Linked DNA regions of Homo sapiens: region 2 is linked to region 1. Evidence: fine-mapped QTL for protein levels in blood plasma. A gene starts in region 1. The other region holds a variant in brackets. All regions are shown on one strand. Distances are from middle to middle.

The links. PIP is the posterior inclusion probability: the model's chance that the variant is causal. Protein levels are from antibody-based Olink assays in UK Biobank. Linkage for the fine-mapping came from a reference panel and not from the study's own genotypes, which makes the PIPs less certain.
Region 2: its variant is fine-mapped to the plasma level of the FCRL2 protein (UK Biobank, PIP above 0.99).

What each region holds. Positions count from the first base shown.
Region 1 is chr1:157,774,257-157,779,793 of GRCh38, forward strand. It overlaps FCRL2 (Fc receptor like 2), which reads right to left and starts at 2,876. Exons shown (of 12, transcript NM_030764.4): 1 at 2,787-2,876; 2 at 1,519-1,539. The coding sequence starts at 2,817.
Region 2 is chr1:157,732,090-157,737,089 of GRCh38, forward strand. No RefSeq gene overlaps it. Among named protein-coding and RNA genes, the nearest start is that of FCRL3, 34 kb to the left of the region's middle. The variant A/G (reference allele first, on the strand shown) is at 2,364.

The sequences.
Region 1 (5,537 bases):
TTTCAAACCTTGCAGGGGATTGTAATTCTCAACAGGCCAGAAACTTTTCCCCAGAGCCAAGACTGGGGTTCAGAGGCCAAGTGACTGCCCAGCCTACATAGCAGGTATATAGCAAAGCCATGATTTCAATTTGGTCTTTCTGGCTATATAAGTCCTGCTCTTTCCAGTACATCATGCTGAACTAAGTTCTCTCTTACTCTTTTTAAAAAGAAAAGATCTCAAACTTCTGAAGAACATCTCAGTTTTCTGAGAAACTCTTGCTAAAGGAAAAGAAAGAGAATGAAGTGGCTGTTGCCCTGTTCTCTGAATGGTCGTAGGTGATTCACTTCAGGGAGCCTGCTGTCTTGGCATGATTCCACTAATGGTCAGAAACCTCCTGAATATTGATCGAGGTTTCCTCTAATTTCCATCCAGACAGACAGTGGAGTGATGGGTATCACAGGGTGGGACTCCTGGACCTTATGTGGGACAGAATGAATGCAAGAGACCAGACTTGCTCCTGAGCAAGTTCCAGGTAGGACCCCTGAATGTCTCCCTGGACACTCTTGTTCCATTCAAGGTGACAGCAGGATCTGCTTTTCCCACACTGTTCCTTAGAGCCCAAAGAGCCCCTTCCACTTGGTAGCCAGCATTCAATGGGCAAGGGAACAAGTCTCCCTTTCTTTAGATTTTGTCTTGGCTCATGTGAAGATTCTGTATATAGAATAAAATATTTTTCCCATTGACTTCCTTCACTGAGCACAGATTTAACTCAGAAAGAGTGAAATAAAATTAGCTTTATTTCACTCTTTATGATTAGAACAGTAATACATGCATTTTTAAAAAATCAAAACTAAATACTAAATCTAGAGCACGGGTTGGCAAATTATGGCCTGTGAGCTGGCCAACACTGTTTTGGTAAATAAAATGTTATTGGAACACAGCCATCCTCATTCGTTTACATATGGTCTATGGTTGTTTTCCTGCTACCACAGCAATGGCATTGAGTAGTTACGGCACACACCTGAAAAGCTTAGCCTATTTACTCTCTTGCCTTTTACAGGAAAAGCTTGCTGATTCCTGAGCTAGAGCTAGAGAAGCAATGAGGACACATGTTTATTCTGACCCTGCAGAAGTTTGTAGTTCTGACACATTCCTCTATAAATAGCTGTTTTCAGAGCTGTAAAAACATTCAGCATTCAGCCAGACAATAAAGAGGCATTACAGTCCTATGGGCAGGAAAACAATTCTCTCCAAATTGTTCTTTTCTTCAATCTGCATGTTATTGCCCTTCTTAAAGCCAGGCTTTTAAGGAAGAGGCAAGCATGTGGGGTCTTGAGAAGGCTAGGTGGTACCTGGTCACCCAGACATGCAAGTGGTGTTGGAAACAGGCTGCGTGACCTCAGAACATGTCAGCCTAGAGGGCAGTAATATTAGGACATCTTCACAGGCTTTCCAGAGCCACCTCTATAGAATCCTGGGGTAGTGGGGTGACTGATATGCCAGAGACCAAGAACAACAAAGACAAGGAGGACTCACCTGCCTGTTCAGTGACTGCATCTGTGAGGAGATCAAAAGCCAGAGATTAGCACACAGCATTTGCCCTCATAATTTATAAATTTATATTACTCTGGTAAATTGCTCAAAAACTTCTTTCCATTTTCCCTTTCTTTTCTATTTCCCTAATCTCTTATTACTAACAATTCAATCTCCCTCGAGCACACATCTAACTGTCATTCATTGTAGTCAAAAGGCAAGTTGCAAACCCAATGCTTGACTAAAGGGATTGTCGAGAATACCCATGTTGGATATTTAGTGACTCTCCTTGATTTCATTTTCCTTCCACCATCCCCACCACTCTATCTCACACTCTGACTTTTCAAGTGGTAGATAGACATGACAACACGATCACAAAGGGCTCATCAGGAAACATACATTGTGAGAGTTCCAAGAAATCAACAAATCAGTCTCTTTCCTATGGCCATATTTCACGTTAGAGCCCTTTGTATTCCAATAACAAATATTTATTTAGTGCCTACACAGCATAGAGAAAGGGATCTTATTTACTCTCTCACCCAGGCTGGAGTACAATGGTGCGATCTTGGCTCACCACAACCTCCACCTCCCGGGTTCAAGCAATTCTCCTGCCTCAGCTTCCCGAGTAGCTGGAATTACAGGTGCCCACCACCACGCCTGGCTAATTTTTGTATTTTTAGTAGAGATGAGGTTTCACCATGTTGGCCGGGGTGGTCTCGAACTCTGACCTCAAGTGATCCACCAGCCTTGGACTCCCAAAGTGCTAGGATTACAGGTATGAGCCACTGCACTCACCCAGGAATCTTATTTTCTAGCAGCAGCTGTCATCTCCCTCATTGTCCACGATTAAACAGAGGAATATTAGCAAAGGGTCTCAATGCATCTGCTGAACCCAAATCTTATAGATAACAATTGAATAATCGGTGTTCATGGAGGAGAAGGGCATTGCTAAATGCTAATATTATGAACATTTTACTATGAGAACATTATATTACTCAATGAGATCTAAGATATCAAAATAGCAATTCATGACCAGCAAATGGAAAAGTGGTCCACCTTGAACATTAAGCATTGTGCTTAATGCTTAATGGATGTGCTGCAAATTCACTGTCCTCAGCCTACTTCTTTGCATCTGCCTTTGAAGCCCAAGCTGCAGGCAGGACCTGAGCATCCCCACCAGTCCCTGGGCTCCAATAAAACCTCCAACCTTTTGGGAGCAGTAGACCTCATTCAGCTGCCACCTCACTTCTCAGTCAAATTATTGAACTCACCAAAGATGACCAGCAATGACCACAGCAGCATGAGGACCTAATCCAGCTATTTGAAAAGAGATGTACTCTTGGTCACCAACTGGAGACTCTGAGCAGGCGATGAAATGTGGTTTTCAGAATAGGTTTTGTATAATTAGCAAAAAAGGAAGTAGAATAGTGCCACTATGTTTAACCATTATCTTTGTCCTGGAAGGGCTAAAACAATTATAGCTGATCCTCTCAATGCCAGAGAAATTTTGTAACTTGACCCTCATTATGATACCTAGCATTTACATATGGGTTGCAATGAGTCAGACACAGTTCTAAGTGCCTCATGCTTACAGAGTTATTTATTACCTTCAGCAAGTTTCTGAATTGGCACTATCCCCTTTCACATGAATAAGGAAATTGAGGCACTAGTAAAGGTAAGTGTCTTAGTCCATTGGGGCTGCTATAAAGAATACCTTAGACTGAGAAATTTATAAACAACATAAATTTATCACTCATAGTTCAAGAGGCTGGGAAGTTTAAGATCAAGGCACCAGTAGATTCAGTGTCTGATGAGGGCCTGTTTCTCATAGATGGTGTCCTCTATGTGTCTTCACATGATGGAAGGAGCAAACAAGCTCCCTCAAGCCTCTTTTACAAGGAGACTAATCCTTTTCATAAGAGTTCCACACTCATGACCCCTAAAAGGTCATGTAATAAAAGGTGGGTACCTTTTATTACTATTGCATTGAGGATTAAGTATCAACATAAGAATTTTGCCAGGACACAAACATTCAGATGATAGCAGCCAGTAAAATGACCAAGATCAGCTTAATCAATTTCTAGTAGTAACAGATCTGGGATTCAAACCCAGGCAGCCCAGTGTCACAGTCTGGCTCTTAAACATTGTGCCCTATTATCTTGATATATTGCTTCTCAAGGTTCATAAAATAATAAGGCCATTGTTTCAATAGCTCATATTTCTTAAGTAAAATTTTTCGTAGTCATTCGATGACTTTCTAGAATGAGATTTTACTAAACTTCAAAACACTTGCACTATATTGCTGAAAACATTGCCATCTTTCTAATCTGTAATCACAACATTGCCTATTTCTAATCTGCATTGCTTTTTGTACCCCAGGCTGATCCTAATACAGTTATCTCACACAAAGCAAAGCGCGTGTTATGTGAACACCTATTATCATGCTCACTTTGATTAGATGTAGTCCCAGTAGATGTTGTCTCATCAGTGAACCTTATGCAGGATGAAACTCTAAACCAAAAAATCACAGGTGCTTATAAATGAGGGACTGACTGAAAATATTCATAGACTCAATGTTACCTGTTCAGGTACTTAACATTTACCTGAATACTTAACATTGAATTTTTAACAATTGGATACTTAACATTTTATTCTCACTATTATCATAGTTTTACTTTGAGAAAGGCTAATATTTATATGTGATGGTCATTAAAGCCTTGCTTATAATAATGTAAAAAGAAAATACTAAAAATATATCACAAGGAGAGATGTGTGTTAAAAATAAGTTATGTGTCAAATGCTGTGGAAAACCAAACAGCCATTAAAATAATTCTGTGGAATAATATTTAATAGCAAGATAAGATGTCTAGGATATATGATTAAGAAAAAAGTGGGCTGGGTGCGGTGGCTCACGCCTGTAATCTCAGCACTTTGGGAGGCTGAGGCGGGCGGATCACGAGGTCAGGAGATCAAGACCATCCTGGCTAACACGGTGAAACCCCATCTCAACTAAAAATACAAAAAATTAGCCGGGCGTGGTGGCAGGTGCCTGTAGTCCCAGCTGTTTGGGAGGCTGAGGCAGGAGAATGGTACAAACCCGGGAGGCAGAGCTTGCAGTGAGCCGAGATCGTGCCACTGCACTCCAGCTTGGGTGACAGAGCAAGACTCCGTCTCAAAAAAAAAAAAGAAAAGAAAAGAAAAGAAAAAAGTGGCTGCAGAGTGCACTTTATCTGCTGCACATTATCCCCTGCTCTCCAATAAAAAGTGTCTGAGACAATTCGCACCACAGAGTTACTGTAATTATATCCAAAAAATCTAATTAAAGCTGATTTTTATTTTCCTTATTTTGCTTATCTGTGTATTCTAGTATTCTTACAATAAACATATGCTATTTACGTACTTTTTAAAGATTCATTATAAGAAACTAGGTTTTATGGCCTCTCTCATCTTAAAGTGTTGAAAACAATACTACTTTAACTTTCTGCATAGGCAAACGGTTTGTATGTGTTTGAAAGTGTAAGTTACTCTTTCCCAGGACCAAAGCTAGTCACTGATCATCAAATCTTGCCTACTGAATGGGTTTCTAGGTGGCCTATAATTCCTTCCCATTCTGACCAACCTGGAAGCTATAGAAATTTTGTGGATGGGAGGGAATTAAGGAAAGGAGTACAAATAGGATCATGAAAAAGTTGATGGTAAATTGATGGTAGGTACAAGTTTTTCATAGACATCAAGGAGATTTTTCAAAATAATCCATATCCCTTCACTGATTTCTATATACCCTCTATGGAAATGTGGCCTCTTCAGTTAAGAATCAATATTTCTTAAGGTGTTACCAAATGATATGAGGTAAAATTCACAGTTGGTATAAAAGGTGCAGGTGGAAAGCAGCAGTAATGAGGTGTGTGGGCCACAGAGGTGGCAACAAATCCTCTAAGATGGCTAACATGTTTCATGTGGGTGCTACTCTGTATTTGACAGACGGCAGTAATTTACAAGTGAATAGGCATATCCTGGAAGCG
Region 2 (5,000 bases), 42 kb before region 1:
AAAAAATTAGCTGGGTGTAGTGGCACAAACCTGTGGTCCCAACTACTTGGGAGGCTGAAGTGGGAGGATCACTTGGGTCCAGGAGGTCAAGGCGGCAGTAAGCTGTGATTGTGCTACTGTACTGCAGCCTGGATAATGGAGTAAGACTCTATCTCAATAAATAAATAAATAAATAAATAAATAAATAAATAAATAAATAAATAAATAAATAAAAGAGTAGTTCCCCATTTCTAGGGTGGTACCAGATGCTGCTATGAAGTTCATTTTGGATCTCTTGAACCAATGGCTCATGCATGATTGGCTAGGAGGAATACACTAGGAGGTTGTCTAGGTGAACTCCTTTCAAGCCTCTTGGTTCATGGACTTTTATTTTTAAGTTAGCATTTAGAATGTTTCAACCTAAATTTATATACCAGTGTATCTTGTTTTATTGTGCTTTGCAAATACTGTGTTTCTTAAACATTGAAGGTTTGTGGCAACCCTGCATTCAGAAAGTCCGCTTGTGCGATTTTTCCCACAGCATGTGCTCACTTTGTATCTCTGTGTCACATTTTGGTAATTCTCATAATATTTCAGACTTTTTCATTATTATTATATATGTTATGATTATCTGTAATTAATGATCTATTGTAATTGTTTTGGGGCTCCACAAAACCATACCCACATAAGATGGTGAACATAACTGACAAACGTTGTGTGTTTTCTGGCTGCTCCACAGACTGGCCTTTCCCCTGTTTCTCTCTTTCTCCTTGGGCCTCTCTATTCCCTGAGACAAAAAATATTGAAACTAGTCTAATTAATATCGTTACAATGCCCTTTAAGTGTTCAAGTGAAAGGAGGAGTCACATGTCTTTCACTTTAAGTCAAAATCTGGAACTGACTAAGCTTAGCAAAGAAGGCATGTCAACAGCTGAGATGGGCCAAAAGCTAGGCCTCTGGTGCCAGTTAGCCAAGTTGTGAATGCAAAGGAAAAGTTATTGAAGGAAATTAAATATTCTACTGCAGTGAACACACGCATAATAAGAAAGCAATACAGCCTCATTGCTGATATGAAGACAGTTTTAGTGGTCTGGATAGAAGATCAAATCAGCCACAACATTCCCTTAAAAGCCAAAGCTTAATACAGAGTGAGGCCTTTAACTCTTTTCAATTCTATAAAGGCTGAGAGAGGTGAGGAAGCTGTGGAAGAAAAATTTAAAGCTAAGAAATGTTGGTTCATAAAGTTTAGGGAAAGAAGTCGTCTCAATAACATAAAAAATACAAGGTGAAGCAGCAAGTGCTGTGTCGAAGCTGCAGCAAGTTATCCAGAAGTAGCTAAAATAAAGGTGGTTACACTAAACAACAGATTTTCAATGTAGTGAAACAGCCTGATCCTGGAAAAAGATGCCATTTAGAATTTTCACAGTTAGAGAAGAGAAGTCAATGTCTGGCTTCAAAGAATCAAAGGACAGGTTGACTCTCTTGTTAGGTACAAATGCAACTGGTGACTTTAAGTTGAAGCCAATGCTCATTTACTATTCTGAAAATCCTAAGGCCCTTAAGAGTTACACTAAGTCTAATCTTCTCGTGTTCTACAAATGGAGCCAGAAAGTCTGCATAATAGCACATCTGTTTACAACATAGCTACTGAATATTTTAAGCCCACTGTTGAGACTTACTGCTCAGAATAAAAGATTTCTTTCAAAATATTACTGCTCCTTGGCAATGTACGTGGTCACCCAAGGCTCTGATGGAGATACACAAGGAGATTAATGTTGTTTTCATGCCTGCTAATATAACATTCATTCTGCAGCCCATGGATCAAGGGGTAAGTTAGATTTTCAAGTTAAGAAATACATGTTGCAAGACTATTACTCTCTTAATGATTTCTCCTATGGATCTAGGCAAAATAAATTGAAAATGTTCTGGAAAGGATTCACCATTCTTGATGTTATTAAGAACATTCATGACTTGTGGGAGGAAGTCTGAATATCAACATTAAACAAAAGTTTGGAAGAAGATGATTCCAACTCTCATGGATGACTTAGAGGGGTTCAAAACTCCAGTGAAGGAAGTAACTGAAGATGTGGTAGAAACAGCAAGAGAACTAGAATTGGAAGTGAAGCCTGAGATATGACAGAATCGCTGCAATCTCATGATAAAATGTGAATGAATGAGGAGTTGCTTCTTATGGATGAGCAAAGAACATGGTTTCTTGAGCTGGAATCTTCTCCTAGTGAAGATGTAAACAATGTTGAAATGAAAATGAAGCATTTTGAATATCCCATAAACATAGTTGATAAAGCAGCGGCAAGGTTTGAGAGGATTGACTTCAATTTTGAAAGAAGTTCTGTTGTGGGAAAAATGCTTTCAAACAGCATCAC[A/G]TGCTACAGAGAAGTCTTTTGTAACAGGAAGAGTCAGTCAATGCAGCAAATGTCATTGCTATTTTAAGAAATTACCAAAGCCACTTTAGCCTTCAGCAACCACTACTCTGACCAGTCAGCAGCCATCAACACTGAGGCAAGACCTCCCCATCAGAAAACAGATTACAACTCACTTCAGGCTTATATAATCATTAGCATTCCTTAGGCAATTAAGTATTTTTTAGTTAAGATAAGTACATTGCTTTTATAGACTTAATTCTATTGCACACTTAATAGACTACAGTATTGTATAAACATAACTTTTTTTAATGTTCTCAAAGCTTTAATTAAGAACACTTTTCAGGAAATAATATACATCACACTAATTGTCCTTGCAGATTTAATTGGTATTTGAAGAAATCTTCAGATAATTCAATGTATCTTTAACTCTTTTCTTTTTTTAAATTTCAAATTTTATTTTAGATACAGGGAGTACATACGCAGGTTTGTTACATGGGTATATTGTACCCTGGTAATGAGCATAATACCCAATAGGTAGTTTTTTGACCCACGCTCCCCTCCCTCTCTCCCTGCTCTAGTAGCGCATAGTGTCTGTTGTTGCTATGTTTTTGTCCATATATACTCAATGTTTAGCTCCCACTTATAACTAAGAACATGTGATATTTGGTTTTCTGTTCCTGCACTAATTTGCTTAAAGTTATGACCTCCAGCTCCATTCATGTTGCTGTGGAGGACATGATTTCATTCTCTTTTATGGCCATGTAGTATTCTATGGTTATATGTACCACATTTTCTTTTTTGTTATTTGACTTTTAAGTTCAGGGGTAACTGTACAGGTTTGTTATGTAGGTAAACTTGTGTCGTGGGGGTTTGTTGTATAGGTTATTTCATCACTCAGGCATTAAGCCTAGTACCCATCGTTTTTTTCTGATCCTCTCCCTCTTCTCACTTTCCACCCTCTGATAGGCCCCAATGTGTGTTGTTCCTCTCTATGTGTCCATGTGTTCTCATTATTTAGCTCCCACTTATAAGTAAGAACATGCAGTTTTTGGTTTTCTGTTCCTGTGTTAGTTTGTGAAGAATAATGGCCTCCAGCTCCATTCATGTTCCTGCAAAGGACATGATCTCCTTTTATATGGCCACATAGTATTCCATGGTACATATGCACCACATTTTCTTTATCCGGTCTACTATTGATGGGCATTTAGGTTGATTCCATGTCTTTGCTATTGTGAATAGTGCTGCAATGAACATATGCATGTATGTGTCTTTATAATAGAACAATTTATATACCCTTGGCTAGATAGTGGTATTTCTGTTTTTAGGTCTTTGAGGAATTGCCACATCATCTTCTACAATGGTTGAACTAATTTACACTTCCGCCAACAGTGTATAAGCATTCCTTTTTCTTCGTAACTTCACCAGCATCTGTTATTTATTTATTTATTTTTATTTTTATTTTTTTGAGACGGAGTCTCGCCACGTCACCCAGGCTGGAGTGCAATGGCTTGACTTCAGCTCACCGCAACCTCCATCTCCCGGGTTCAAGTGATTCTCCTGCCTCTGTCTCCCAAGTAGATGGGATTACAGGTGCTCGCCACCACTCCTGCCCAGCTAATTTTTTGTATCTTTAGTAGAGCCTGGGTCTCACCATGTTGGCCAGGCTGATCTCAAACTCCTGACCTCATGATCCGCCCACCTCAGCCTCCCAAAGTGCTAAGATCACAGGCGTGAGTCCCCGTGCCTGGCCACATCTGTTATTTTTTTTAACTTTCTAATATTAGCCATTCTGACTGGTGTGAGATGGTATCTCACTGTGGTTTTGTTTTGCATTTCTTTAATGATCAGTGATGTTGAGCTTTTTATCATATGATTGTTGGCTGCATGTATGTTTTCTTTTGAGAACTGTCTGTTCATGTCCTTTGCCCACTTTTTAATAGAGTTGTTTGTTTGTTCTTTTCTTGTAAATTTGTTTAAGCTCCTTATAGATGCTGGATATTAGATCTTTGTCATATTCAGTTTGCAAAAATTTTCTCCCATTATGTATTTGTCTCTTTACTCTGTTGATAGTTTCTTTTGCTGTGCAGAAGTTTTTAGTTTAATTACATCTCATTCATCAATTTTTGCTTTTGTTGCAATTGCTTTTGGTGTCTCTGTCATGAAATCTTTCCTCATTCCTTTGTCCAGAATGGTATTGCCTAGGTTGTCTTCCGAGGTTTTTATAGTTTTGGGTTTTACATTTAAGTCTTTAATCCATCTCGAGTTAATTTTTGTATATGGTGTAAGGAAGGAGTTTTAATTTTCTGCATATGGCTAGCCAGTTATCCTAGCACCATTTATTAAATAGAGAATGCTTCCCCCTTGTTTTGTCAATTTTGTTGAAGATCAGATAGTTGTAGCTGTGTGATCTTATTTCTGGGTTCTCTATTCTGTTCCATTGCTCCATGTGTCTGTACGAGTACCATGCTGTTTTGGTTACTGTAGCCCTGTAGCATAGCTTGAAATTGGGTCGTGTGATGCCTCCAGGTTTGTTCTTTTTGCTTAGAATTGCCTTGACTATTTGGGCTCTTTTCTTTTTTTTTTGGTTCCATGTGAATTTTCAAATATATTTTTTTCTAGTTCTGTGAAGAATGTCAA